Linked DNA regions of Homo sapiens: region 1 is linked to region 2. The links come from fine-mapping of genetic effects on gene expression. Tissue or cell type: unexposed skin. Region 2 holds a variant in brackets; the other region holds the start of a gene. All regions are shown on one strand. Distances are between the middles of the regions. Region 1 holds the start of GLI2 (GLI family zinc finger 2). Region 2 overlaps GLI2 (GLI family zinc finger 2).

What was found. PIP is the estimated chance that this variant, and not a neighbour inherited with it, causes the effect.
Region 1: GLI2 starts here. The variant in region 2 is fine-mapped to the expression of GLI2 in unexposed skin (GTEx, PIP above 0.99).

Annotation. Positions count from the first base shown.
Region 1 is chr2:120,733,117-120,738,480 of GRCh38, forward strand. It overlaps GLI2 (GLI family zinc finger 2), which reads left to right and starts at 2,752. Exons shown (of 14, transcript NM_001374353.1): 1 at 2,752-3,169. It overlaps LOC124906073 (a long non-coding RNA gene), which reads left to right. Exons shown (of 3, transcript XR_007087219.1): 3 at 926-1,734. LOC124907881 (a long non-coding RNA gene) reads right to left here and starts at 4,545. Exons shown (of 2, transcript XR_007087221.1): 1 at 3,445-4,545; 2 at 1-472. RefSeq lists enhancers at 1,381-2,028, 2,668-2,837, 3,956-4,456, 4,457-4,957, 5,364.
Region 2 is chr2:120,856,293-120,861,656 of GRCh38, forward strand. All of the region lies in intron 2 of GLI2 (GLI family zinc finger 2), which reads left to right. Among named protein-coding and RNA genes, the nearest start is that of GLI2, 120 kb to the left of the region's middle. RefSeq lists an enhancer at 69-718. The variant GCCC/G (reference allele first, on the strand shown) is at 2,733.

The DNA.
Region 1 (5,364 bases), 120 kb before region 2:
CTTGCTCAGGTCTCCAATCACCGGCTCCCACAGCACGGTGGATTTTCCTTTACCCAGTTTGTGATTATATGTTTGTTTGTGGTTATTAATGAAACATAAGCTCCCTAAGGGGAAAGATCTTGTAGGTGTTGCTCACTGTGGTGTCGAGCCACTTAGCACAGTGCCTGGTACTGATTGAATGAACCAGACTGGCCAAAGGTCATACACTTAGTACCAGATCTGGGACTAGGACCTGGTGTCCCAGCGCTCAGTCGAAGGCTTCCCTGGCCACACCAGTTTGCCTCCACTCCAAACCTTCTGCTGCTTTTTTCAGCGCCCAAACTTCTGACCATCTAGAGATTCAGGCACGGTGTCTACAGAGTTCTCCTCCAACCAAAAAACATTCTGTCTTCATCTCGACAGCCATCTTCTTGCCAAAATAAGCCGGGAAAGGTTATGTGAGTGCCTGGAGTCCAGCAGGAGTTGAGCTGGTCTGAGAAGAAAAACAGAGAAGAAGGAAATATCCTAAAACATTGATTTGTTTAAACTTCTTCACAAACTTTACAACACAAGGAAATCAACAGAGACAAGCTCATAATGAAGTAATCAGCCAACGCGGCTAATATTCCAGCAATGAGAAATGATTCCCTACATGTCATGGGGCAGATATGAATAGGGTCATTAAAATATGGCCAAGGAGGGGAGGGAGAGTTTACTTTTTCTGTCTCCTTAGAGTCTGTGTTCTGAAAGCTCAGCAGGAATTTAAACAAATAGCACGGAGGAATGGTGAATCTGATCATCTTTAAAGAAAAAGCCCCTTTCAAACTTCTCTTTAAATCATTGGCTTATGCAAGTTTCGCTTTTTAAAAATGCTGCCGACCTTTTCCCCCCAAACAAAATTAGCATCAAATTGTTCTAATATTTTTCTGCATATTTTTTTCTCTAGGTCAAGAAGAAATTGTTGCTCCATCATATAAGTGAATGTCAGGAGGAGGAAGGAGGATCTTAAGGAATGAAGTTCTAATGCATCCTCTTTGATTAAAAAGTAAAAGAATAAAGTTAGCAGAGGATAAAAGGTATATGGAGAGAGCCACCCACAAAAAGGGTTGCACCGGTGAAATGGGCCTGTGTAGGTCACATCCCCTCAGGGAGGGTAGCATTGGGTCCCTTGCATTTCAAATAAAATGCAATTTTAGGAACAGGGGCTGAAGGGAGAGACACTTCCACCCACCTCAACAGGGCAATTTTTTAAAAATTTAATTTAATTAATTTATTTTTTTGAGACAGAGTCTCGCTCCATCACCCAGGCTGGAGTGCAGTGGCGCCATCATGGCTCACTGCAACCTCCATCTCCCAAGGGGTTTGAGAGATTCTCCAGCCTCAGTCTCCCAAGTAGCCGGGATTACAGGCGCGCGCTACTATCCCTGGCTAATTTTTTGTATTTTTAGTAGAGACGGGGTTTCACCATGTTGGCCAGGCTGGTCTTGAACTCCTGACCTCAGGTGATCCCCGTGCCTCGGCCTCCCAAAGTGCTAGGATTACAAGCGTGAGCCACCGCGCCCGGCCCAACAGGGCAAATTTAACTGAACTTACAGTACAACCACCCGAAGCTCTGGGAGGATGGCAGAGTGCTCTGACCTTAGACTAGTTACTTAACTTTTTAAAGCATCAGACTTCCCACCTGTAAAAACACGAGAAGAGAACCTTCCTTACAGAGCTGTGAAAGTCCAATAATACAAAGAAAATATAACATCACCTGGCACTTGGTAGAGTGTTCTACAAACGTTAGGAAGAATAAAACCAGAAATTCCCCCCAAGACCCTCTTCGGGTGAGGCCCAGGGGCCCTGGAGAGGGTGGCAGGCCCGGGGGTGTGGGGAGGACACTTTAGCCAGCTGCCCCCAATTCTCCTCCAAGCCTGGCGGCCCAGTTCCGGGCTGTGGTGTGGCTTGAGGGCCCAGGGCTCCTCACTGAGCTTGCTTAAGCAAGTTCTTTCACACACAGCCCCATATACACTTTGGCTAGAAAATTCAATGAGGAGTTTTTTCTTCCTTCTTTCTCTGTTGTTGTTGGGTTCTGATTACTTCCATCTGGCTTCAGCGGCTCGAGTGGAGTCTCTAAAACACACAACACAACAAAACAAAAACCCACCCTGCAAGCCACATGCACCAAACCTAGAAGGCTGCTTCGTTTCTCGCCAGCGTGTGCTCAGATGGCGACGAGGGCTAGCGGCGGCGGGGGACGCCTCAGGACCCCCGGCACCTGCGCTCGCTGCCCGCGGGAAGAGGGTCCGCGTGGACCCAGCCCCCGCGTCCCTTCTCTGGCGTCCCCGGCTTCCGCGCGGGCGTCCAGAGAAGCGGGCGCCCTGGGAACAGCGACCCAGGCATCTCCCCGAGGAGGGAAGTGGGAGGTGGGGAGGGCGGGGGGATTTCAGAGATTGAAAACAGAGCAGCCCTTGCCCCTCAGCTCCGGAGCTCATCTGACTTGAGTTAGCGACACCCCCAACCCCCCCCCCCACACCTAGTCGTCTAAAAAAAGTGTCGGAGATTGGCGCGTCCTTTGGTTCCTTTCTCGAACTTTCCTTGTAGGTGCGTTTTCTTTCCTTGGTGCTGGGTGGGGAGAGTCCCTGTGCTCCCCCTTTCCCCTCCCCCCGCCCCGGCGGCGTTCGGGTCCCCCTGCGTCCCCCGGCAGGGAGCGGGCGGGCTGGCTGGCGGGTTCTTGGGGCCCGGGTGTGCCCGCACCGTGCGCGCGGGGGCGCTGCGCAGTCCGGCGGCGCTGATGGATTGCAGAAGTGCCGGCGCTTGCCAGCCGAGGCAGCACGGCTCCGCGGACTTTTTTTCAAACTCCCATCAATGAGACTTCGAGGAGGAGCGGGCGGCGGCGGCGGCTGCGACTGCGAACGCGGAGGAAGGCCAGGAGCCGCAGGAGGAGCCGGAGGAAAGAGCTTGGGCCGCGCGGCGCGCCGCAGCCTCGGGGAGCCGCCTGCTCGCCGGCGGTAGGGGCTGCGCGGCGCCCGCCCGCCTCTCGGTCCCCTCTCTTGCCTGGCCCGCCCCGCCCCGGCTGGCTGGAGCCCCGGCACAAGGCAGCCAGCCGAGGGTCGCCGCGCCAGCCAAGGTGGGATGGGGGCCCACAGCCACCGCCCGGCGCCCGAGAGGCCACCTGCGTGCTAGAGGCAAACTTTTGTCTCTCTCGGTAAAGTTGCATTGGCCTTCTTTTGCTTGCTTTTCGTGACGAAGCGCCTCCCACCTCGGCCAAGCGCGGGCCGACTGGGATGCTGCGCCGTCTCGGGGGGTCCCTCGGCCGGGTACCGGCGCCTAGGCCTTGGGATCGGGGCCCTGGGCTTCGGGGGACTAGAGGCTAGTAGGCGCGACCCCGCCTGGGGCTCTGGACGAGCAGGGCGGGGACGTAAGGAGAGTCCTGGGGCTTGGAGCTCGTGGCCAGAGGTCGATGTTGCACCCTCTCCCTACCTGGGGGAGAGCACCACTCTTCTCGGGGTGCACAGCGAGCCGGCCTCCGCGCGCCGGCGGGGGTCTGTTTTTTCAGGGGGTGGAGGGTGGGATCGGAGGCTGGGATGCTCCGAAGCTGCCGTAGGTGGGCATGGGAGCGTGTCTGCGGGCGTACTGAGCGCGGAGGGGCTGCAGCCAGCCACTTGAGAACTTCGAACTCCACTTCTCCGCGCTGCGCGTCCCGGAGCCCTGCCTTTCTTTCTTCCTTCCTCAATCCTTCCTCCCCCTCGCCCGGCCCGGCCGCCCCCTCCCCCTCTGCTGGGCTCTCCTCCTCGGCCCCCCCTCTTTGCCTCTCTTCTCCTCCTCTCCTGCCCTCGGCCCTGAGATCCGCTTGACTTCCCAAAGGGATCCGCACGTAATCCTTTGCCGGGTCCTCCGGTTCCCCCTTCCACCTCACTTTCATCCCTGCCCCCCTACTCATCGTCTCTCCCCACCCCCGACAATCTCTCAACAAGTATATTTGCTGAGGAATTTGAAAAATCCACTACTGCAACTTGATCTGTATGTGATGGATGGGGAGAGGCGCGGAGAGAGTTGGGCGCCAATCCTATTAAGGGTTTAGAGAGGGGAGTCTTTTCCCCGGACGGGGCGGGGGCGGGGAGCTGGGAGGGAGCGTGTGCTTGCGTGTGTGAGTGTGAGCGCGCCCGCCGCGCTGGAGAGCTGGGAGTCCACCCAGCTCGGCGCCTTTTCAGCCCGGCGGTAACTGCTGTCATTTCCTAGGAAACCCGACTTTTACCGCGCGGGGAGCTGGGGATGGAGCCCGTGCGCCTCACCCTGGGTGATCGGTCGCTGAGGCTCTCGGGGACCTCGAGCCCCCCCGAGGGTGCCTCTTTCCACTACCTTCTCTTTTGTGTAATTGTTCTGTGGCTCCTAGAGTTGATCCCAGCTGGAAAAGTAGACCTGTCCCTACTGTCTGGTCCCGCGCCCTGGGAGTCTTGTAGGCGTCCCTCTGTCCCCCAGCCCGGGCATCCCGCTCGGTGCGCGACCTCTGGCACGGGCTTTGCAGCTCGGTGGCCGCAGCGGTGTCCCGGGCCCCCTCTCCGCCGCTCTTGCCGGGCGTGTGAAGGTTTAATCCCGACAGCTTCAGATAAAGGGAGCAGTTGTAAAACGCTCATAGGCTGTTTGCAGACGAGGCTCTGGGGGATGTAGGAGAATTTGAAAGTAAACGTTTCCCTCGCAAGCAGCATAAAATAGTGTTTAAACAAATATTGTATTGGCATGCTCAGGGGGCTCGGTGCCAAAAAGTAAAGTAAATAAACTGTGAAATCCAAAATATACAGCGGGGAAAGCGGAGGAATAGGCGGGTTTGTCACAGGCCTCCCTGATGAGACCAGTTTGTTCCAGCCACCTCACCTGCCAGCTTTCTCTCCGCCCATTTCCTTACCTTGCTGGGAGTTCCCTTGGCTGGGTTTCCCTGTGTCTGGGGACAGGCCCTCCCTGGGGCCTGGGAACGGCTTTGCAGTTGCTTGTTTAGGGGGAAGCTCACGGTGTGGCTACCTGGGCCTGACTCCACAGGGACGGGGGGCACCTTGGCTATGCCTGGCTGCTTTGAGTTTGGAGGCTCTTTATTTAGGCTTTTCCCAGCTTCTGGTCTGTCCTGGGGCAGTCATTCTAGAATGTGGAATCCAGATCCATCAGGGGCCTTCTCTTCTTTTTGACTATGCTTCTTGTGCCTCTTTCTTCATCGTTCTTGCTTTTGTTTTCCTAGACTTGCTGCTTCTCTCTTGAGGGTTACAGGAAATTGTGGAGATGTTTTTCCCTGGGATTCGAATTCCACTCAAGCCCAGCCATATGGAAAGTTGTCGCTTGTCTGATGAGTTTTAAAGTTAATTATATTTGGTAAGATTTAGGGTGGTTTTATTTTCTCCTCTGCTTCGAGAA
Region 2 (5,364 bases):
TGGGCATTGGCAGCGCCTTCTGGGATCAGAGCTGCTGTGCCACTCACCTTGCCACCCTTTGTTGCACCTTCTAGCTCCTTCCTGTGGGGCTCCAGGTTGGGAATCAGGCCTCCCATTTATGGCAGGTTTGGGCCGACTGTGCCCGGGCCAGGAAGCAGGACGGCTCCTAGGTAGAGATTTGGATGGGGTTCTCACCATCATGGGCCTCGTTTTAAAGTGGACCTGCCCACCGCCCCGATCTCCACTGCCTGTAGACTTTGCAGTGTCCGGACCTGGCTTTGACCTGGGACCAGCCACTGTGTAAGGGAGCTGGCTCAGCTGCCTACAGAACACTCTCATGGCACCGGAACCTCCAGGGCCCCCTAATCTCCAGGGACTGCAGTCCCGAGCCCTCTGTCATTCTACTTGCCTGACCACTGCCCTCCCATGGCTCTGCAGACCAGCGCTTTCCTGGGCTGCTCTGTTGGCTGTCCCACTGCATTCCTCAGGGGCGTCTGAAGAAGCCTCGTGTGGCTGGAATGGGGATAAAATCCAGACGGAAAGGCCTCTGATGAGGACTTGGGCCTTTGGTGTGCCTGGCTCACTTCAGGCCTGGAGGGAGTAGCCCTCTCTGGGTTGAACTGGGCCCAGAGGCCCTCTGATTTATATCAAGGTGGGAGCTGCCTGGGCAGGCAGAAATAATAAAGGTGTGGGCCGGGGCTTATGGAAGATGGGGTGGAGGGAAAGCTGGGCAGAAAAGCTCATCCTTCCATGCCTTTTGGCCATGCTAGCCTAAAGACCAGGGGAAGGCTTAGAGCTTAGTGATGCACCCAAGACGTGCAGGGCTGTGGATCTTAACCTCTGAAGCCACTGCCCACTCTGTGGGCAGCTGCACATCACAAAGATCTAAACTGAAATGGCTATGGAGGAAAGAGGAGTGAGGTGGGGAGGAGGGTAGTGACAGAGAGATGACAGGAGGAAATATCCTGACTAGAGAGCTTCCATCCATTCAACCACCCACCTACCCATCTGCCCATCCACTTACCCATTTGCCCACCCACCTACCCATCTGCCCACCCACCTACCTATCTGCCCACTCACCTACCTACCCATCTGCCCACCCACCCACCCACCTACCCATCTGCCCACCCACCCACCCACCTACCTACCCATCTGCTCACCCACCCACCTACCTACCCATCTTCCCACCCAGCCACCCACCTACCCATCTGCCCGCCCACCCACCGACCCACCCACCTACCTACCCATCTGCCCACCCACTCACCCACCTATCCATCCATCCACCCACCCATTAACTGATCCACCTCACCCAAACACCCACCTACTCATCAACCCATCCATCCTACCCAAACACCTATCCATTCATCCACCCACCAGGCCACCCCGCTATCCAATGCATTTTTCATCAATCACCTGCTATATTCCAGCATTTTCATCCAGGTCCCACCTCAGTGTAGCCCACAGGGGATCAACCCCCCCACCCCCACCCCCACCACCAGTTTCTGATCTCTTTTTGCACGCACAGCCTGATGGTGGCCCTGGGCCCTTGTAAACCCTCCTTCCCATTTTCTGATACTCTGCTTGTTTCTCCTCGTGGCCCACTGAGATAGTAAGCTCCTTCACTCAGAGTTGCGGTTGCTTCTAATTCCCTCGCACCTTTCTTAGAGCTCTCCTTGGAGGAGTTGCTCAGAGCATCTTTTGTGGGTCGATGGAAAGGTTACTGGGAAACTTCAGTTGTTTGAGACTGGGATCACCTGGCCTCTGTGTAGGGTGGTCGAGGTGAGAAGGGAGCTCACGTTAGGTGAACACCTGCTGAGTGCTCAGGGGGCGGGGGAGAATGACAGCTTGGTGCTGGGGAAAGAACCCATGTTTGGAGCTGGCAGGGGTGGGATTGGTTCCCGGAGTTGATGCCAGCTGTGTGGCTTTCAACAAGTCACTTAAGCTTTCCGAGTCTCAGTGTTTTTATTTGTCAAGAAACAAAATATAAACAAACCTGAACAATTAAATGCACATGTAAGTACTCCTTGTGGTACTTGGCATGTGGCTAGTGGGTGATGGTCTCTCCCCATGCCCCCGCCATGTCCATAGATTTGAAGACTGATCAAGGCTACTTTGTTGAGTTAAAATGGGCATAGATGAAGCTTGGCTCTGGGTCAGGGCCAAGCTAGTGAACAACAATGGGCAGCCTCTGATGTTTCTGGCCTCTCGCCTCCACCCTTGTCCTGTCTCATCCTCTTGGCCACCGGCCTGCTAGTCCCCTGGGCAGGATGGGGGAAGAGACAAGCTGCTGAGTTGCTGGAGGGCAGGATGGCTTGGATTCAGCCTGCTGCCTTGCTGTGGACCCTGTGGCTCAGGCCCTCTGTGCAGCCCAGTGGCCGGAGGCTGGTTATCCATAAGCAGGAAATGGTGGAGGTGAGCTGAGCATGAGATGATGTCAGGAGATGTGGGGCAGGAGGCTGGGCTCTGGGGAGGGCCTGCAGTGCTGGGGGGCACAGGCATTTAATCAACTGAATTCCCACTGTCCTCTCTCCAACTCCATTTATTACCTATTAAATAATTATCTCATTTGGAAAGTGTTTCTTAATGTAGGGCAGACTCTATCCCCAGGGCCATGGGTTTTGCAACGAGTTGTCTCCTGTGTGCGTGTTCCAGGCTTGGGCAGGACCGGAGCGTTCTTGCCCTGGCTGTGCCTCTGCCTGAACCAGGCTTTCCGGAGGCACGGTAAAGCGGGT[GCCC/G]CCTCCCCTCGACCTGGCTAATAGCCTCATTACAAGGGTTTTCTTAAGCAGTATTCTGTCTTCTAAAGGGGACTGCCTAGGGCTGGGCTTCTGAAGTTACTTGCTATTTTCTGGGACTCTGCCTTAGGATCTCCAAAACGTCTGAAAATGTCAGGGATGGGAGAGGCCTTTGTCGTTTTTACAGGTGAGGCCACTCAGGCCCTGAGATCACACATTGAGTTGATGGCAAAAGCAGAAGCCTAGGCCTCCCGCCTGCAAATGCAGAGCTTGCTCTGCTTCATCTCCTTTTGTCTTGGAATGTCATTGGAGCTTAAGGGTGGCCCCTTCCCCTCTTGAAGGAAGGGCTGTTTCCTGAAACAAGAGCAGGGAAGCTGTGTTGAGTGAATGCAGCTCTGCCTCACAACAGCCCTACAGATACTCCCTCCTTTTTTTTTTTTTTTTTTTTTTTGACAGAGTCTCGCTCTGTCACCAGGCTGGAGTACAGTGGTGCAATCTTGGCTCACTGCAACCTCTGCCTCCCGGGTTCAAGTGATTCTCCTGCTTCAGCCTCCGGAGTAGCTGGGACTACAGGAGCACACCACCGTACCCAGCTAATTTTTGTATTTTTAGTAGAGATGGGGTTTCACCATGTTGGCCACAATGGTCTCCATCTCTCGGCCTCAGGTGATCCGCCCGCCTTGGCCTCCTAAAGTTTGGGGATTACAGGCGTGAGCCATCGGGCCCGGCCTTTTTTTTTTTTTTCTTTTGAGATGGAGTTTTGCTCTTGTCACCCAGGCTGGAGCGCAATGGCACAATCTCAGCTCACTGCAACCTCCGCCTCCTGGCCTCTTGGCCAGGCTGGTCTGGAGCTCCTGACCTCAGACGATCTGCCCACCTCAGCCTCCCAAAGTGCTGCGATGACAGGCGTGAGCCACCATGCCCGGCCAATACTCCCTTTTTTGTTATTAATAAGTTATACAGACTTTCTAGAACATGTGCAAACAGTACTGAAGCACGTGTAGAAACACAAGCCTTGCCCCTCTGTCTGCTCCCCAGAGGTCATGGTGGTGGTCAGGCAGGTGCACGCCCTCCTCCTGGCTGTGGTGTGAGGGTGGATTGAAGGGGACCAAGGAGAGTGCATCGGAGTGCATCATTAAGGTCCTCTAGGCAAGAAGCAGAGGTAATGGACCAGGGTGGGCTTCAGATTTGTCTTCCAGTTTCAGGTGTTTAGAGTAAGGTCAAGCGGTCAGTACCACAGCGTGCCCTGAGGATGGCTTCGGTCAGTTCCAGTACCCCCAAGGAGCTGCATGAAGGTCTCACCTCATCCTATCACCTACCCTGGGCTTCTTCATCTGCAGGGTGGGGCTCACTGTCCTCAGGTCCTGAGATTCTCTCAGGCCCCCAACACAGGCCCTGGGGCTGCCCATGATCAGGCCAGCTGTCAGTGTCCATTGCAGAAGCTCAGAGGGCCCCCTGGGACTTGGCTCCCTTTCGAGATTCTGGGAGCAGACTACAGCAGCGGTCACTGACCCTGGAGTGGTCACGGGCCACTTTGAGGAGTTGGATAGCTTGAAGGATGAATGGCTGAGCTGCAGGGAGAGATCTGGGGAGGGCATTTCAGGCAACGGTTCTGGTGGGTCAAAAGATGCAGGAGGGACCTGGGTGTAGCCTGTTTGCCTGCAAGAAGGCCCTGTGTGGAAGAGGCAGGGTTCCTTATGGATCCTGGGCCTGGCCCATTGTTAACAGGGAGCCGTCTGGGACTCTAGAGCAGTGAGGGGGCAGCCCAGGTACAAGACACATGGTGATGAGGAAGGAGCTAGGGTCAGACCCTGGCTCGGCCACTTGGTTTCCTGAGGCCCTGCGTGGATTACCCCATTTCTAATATGGCCAGGGTTAATGTACCTGGCCCAAGGATTGTTGTGAAAATTAGAGATCCGTTATGGCCAGCACACAGGAGTGTGCAATGGTGATGCAAATGATATAAATGATGATGAATGAGGCAGAAGCTGGACCACTCTGCCTTTAAAATCCTGAAGCCCTAGATGCCCACCCTAATCATGAGAGCTGTCATTTATTATGCAATGACTGGGTGATGATTAGAGCCCATTTACCCTCTGCAAGAGAGTCTCTATCACCCATTTTACAGGTGAGGAACCCGAGTTTCCTGATGTCTCTGAGGCCATGTAGCCCATGAGTGACGGAGTGCGAATTCCATTCTGTGCTGTCTGTTCAGTGTGGTTCATATTCTACCAGACTCCAGCCCTGCCTGTGAAACCCCATATGTAGTGGGTGCTGACGTGAATATGAAATAGCAGGTGTGCCCCATGAGAGAAGCTCAGCAGGCCCCTGCAGGCTTCCTGGAGGCACCTCCTGTAGTATGGCCCTTGGATGGGCCTGCTGCCCCTGTGATTCAGCTCCAGGTGGAGCCTGGGAGGGGTCCCAGTCCTGGGCCTGTGGCTGGAGTCGCCCACGCTATAGTCATCCAGTCTCCTGTCAAGATCTTTTGCTCACTCAACTTGCTTTTTAAAACAAAAAAGCATCCAAGTGGTTCAGTCTCCAAGCCTGGGCTGCTCTTGGGCCCTCTTGAGAATTTGGACACCAGGGTTTGCTGATTGCCACAGCAGGGATTAACCCTCCACGGCCCGTGGCA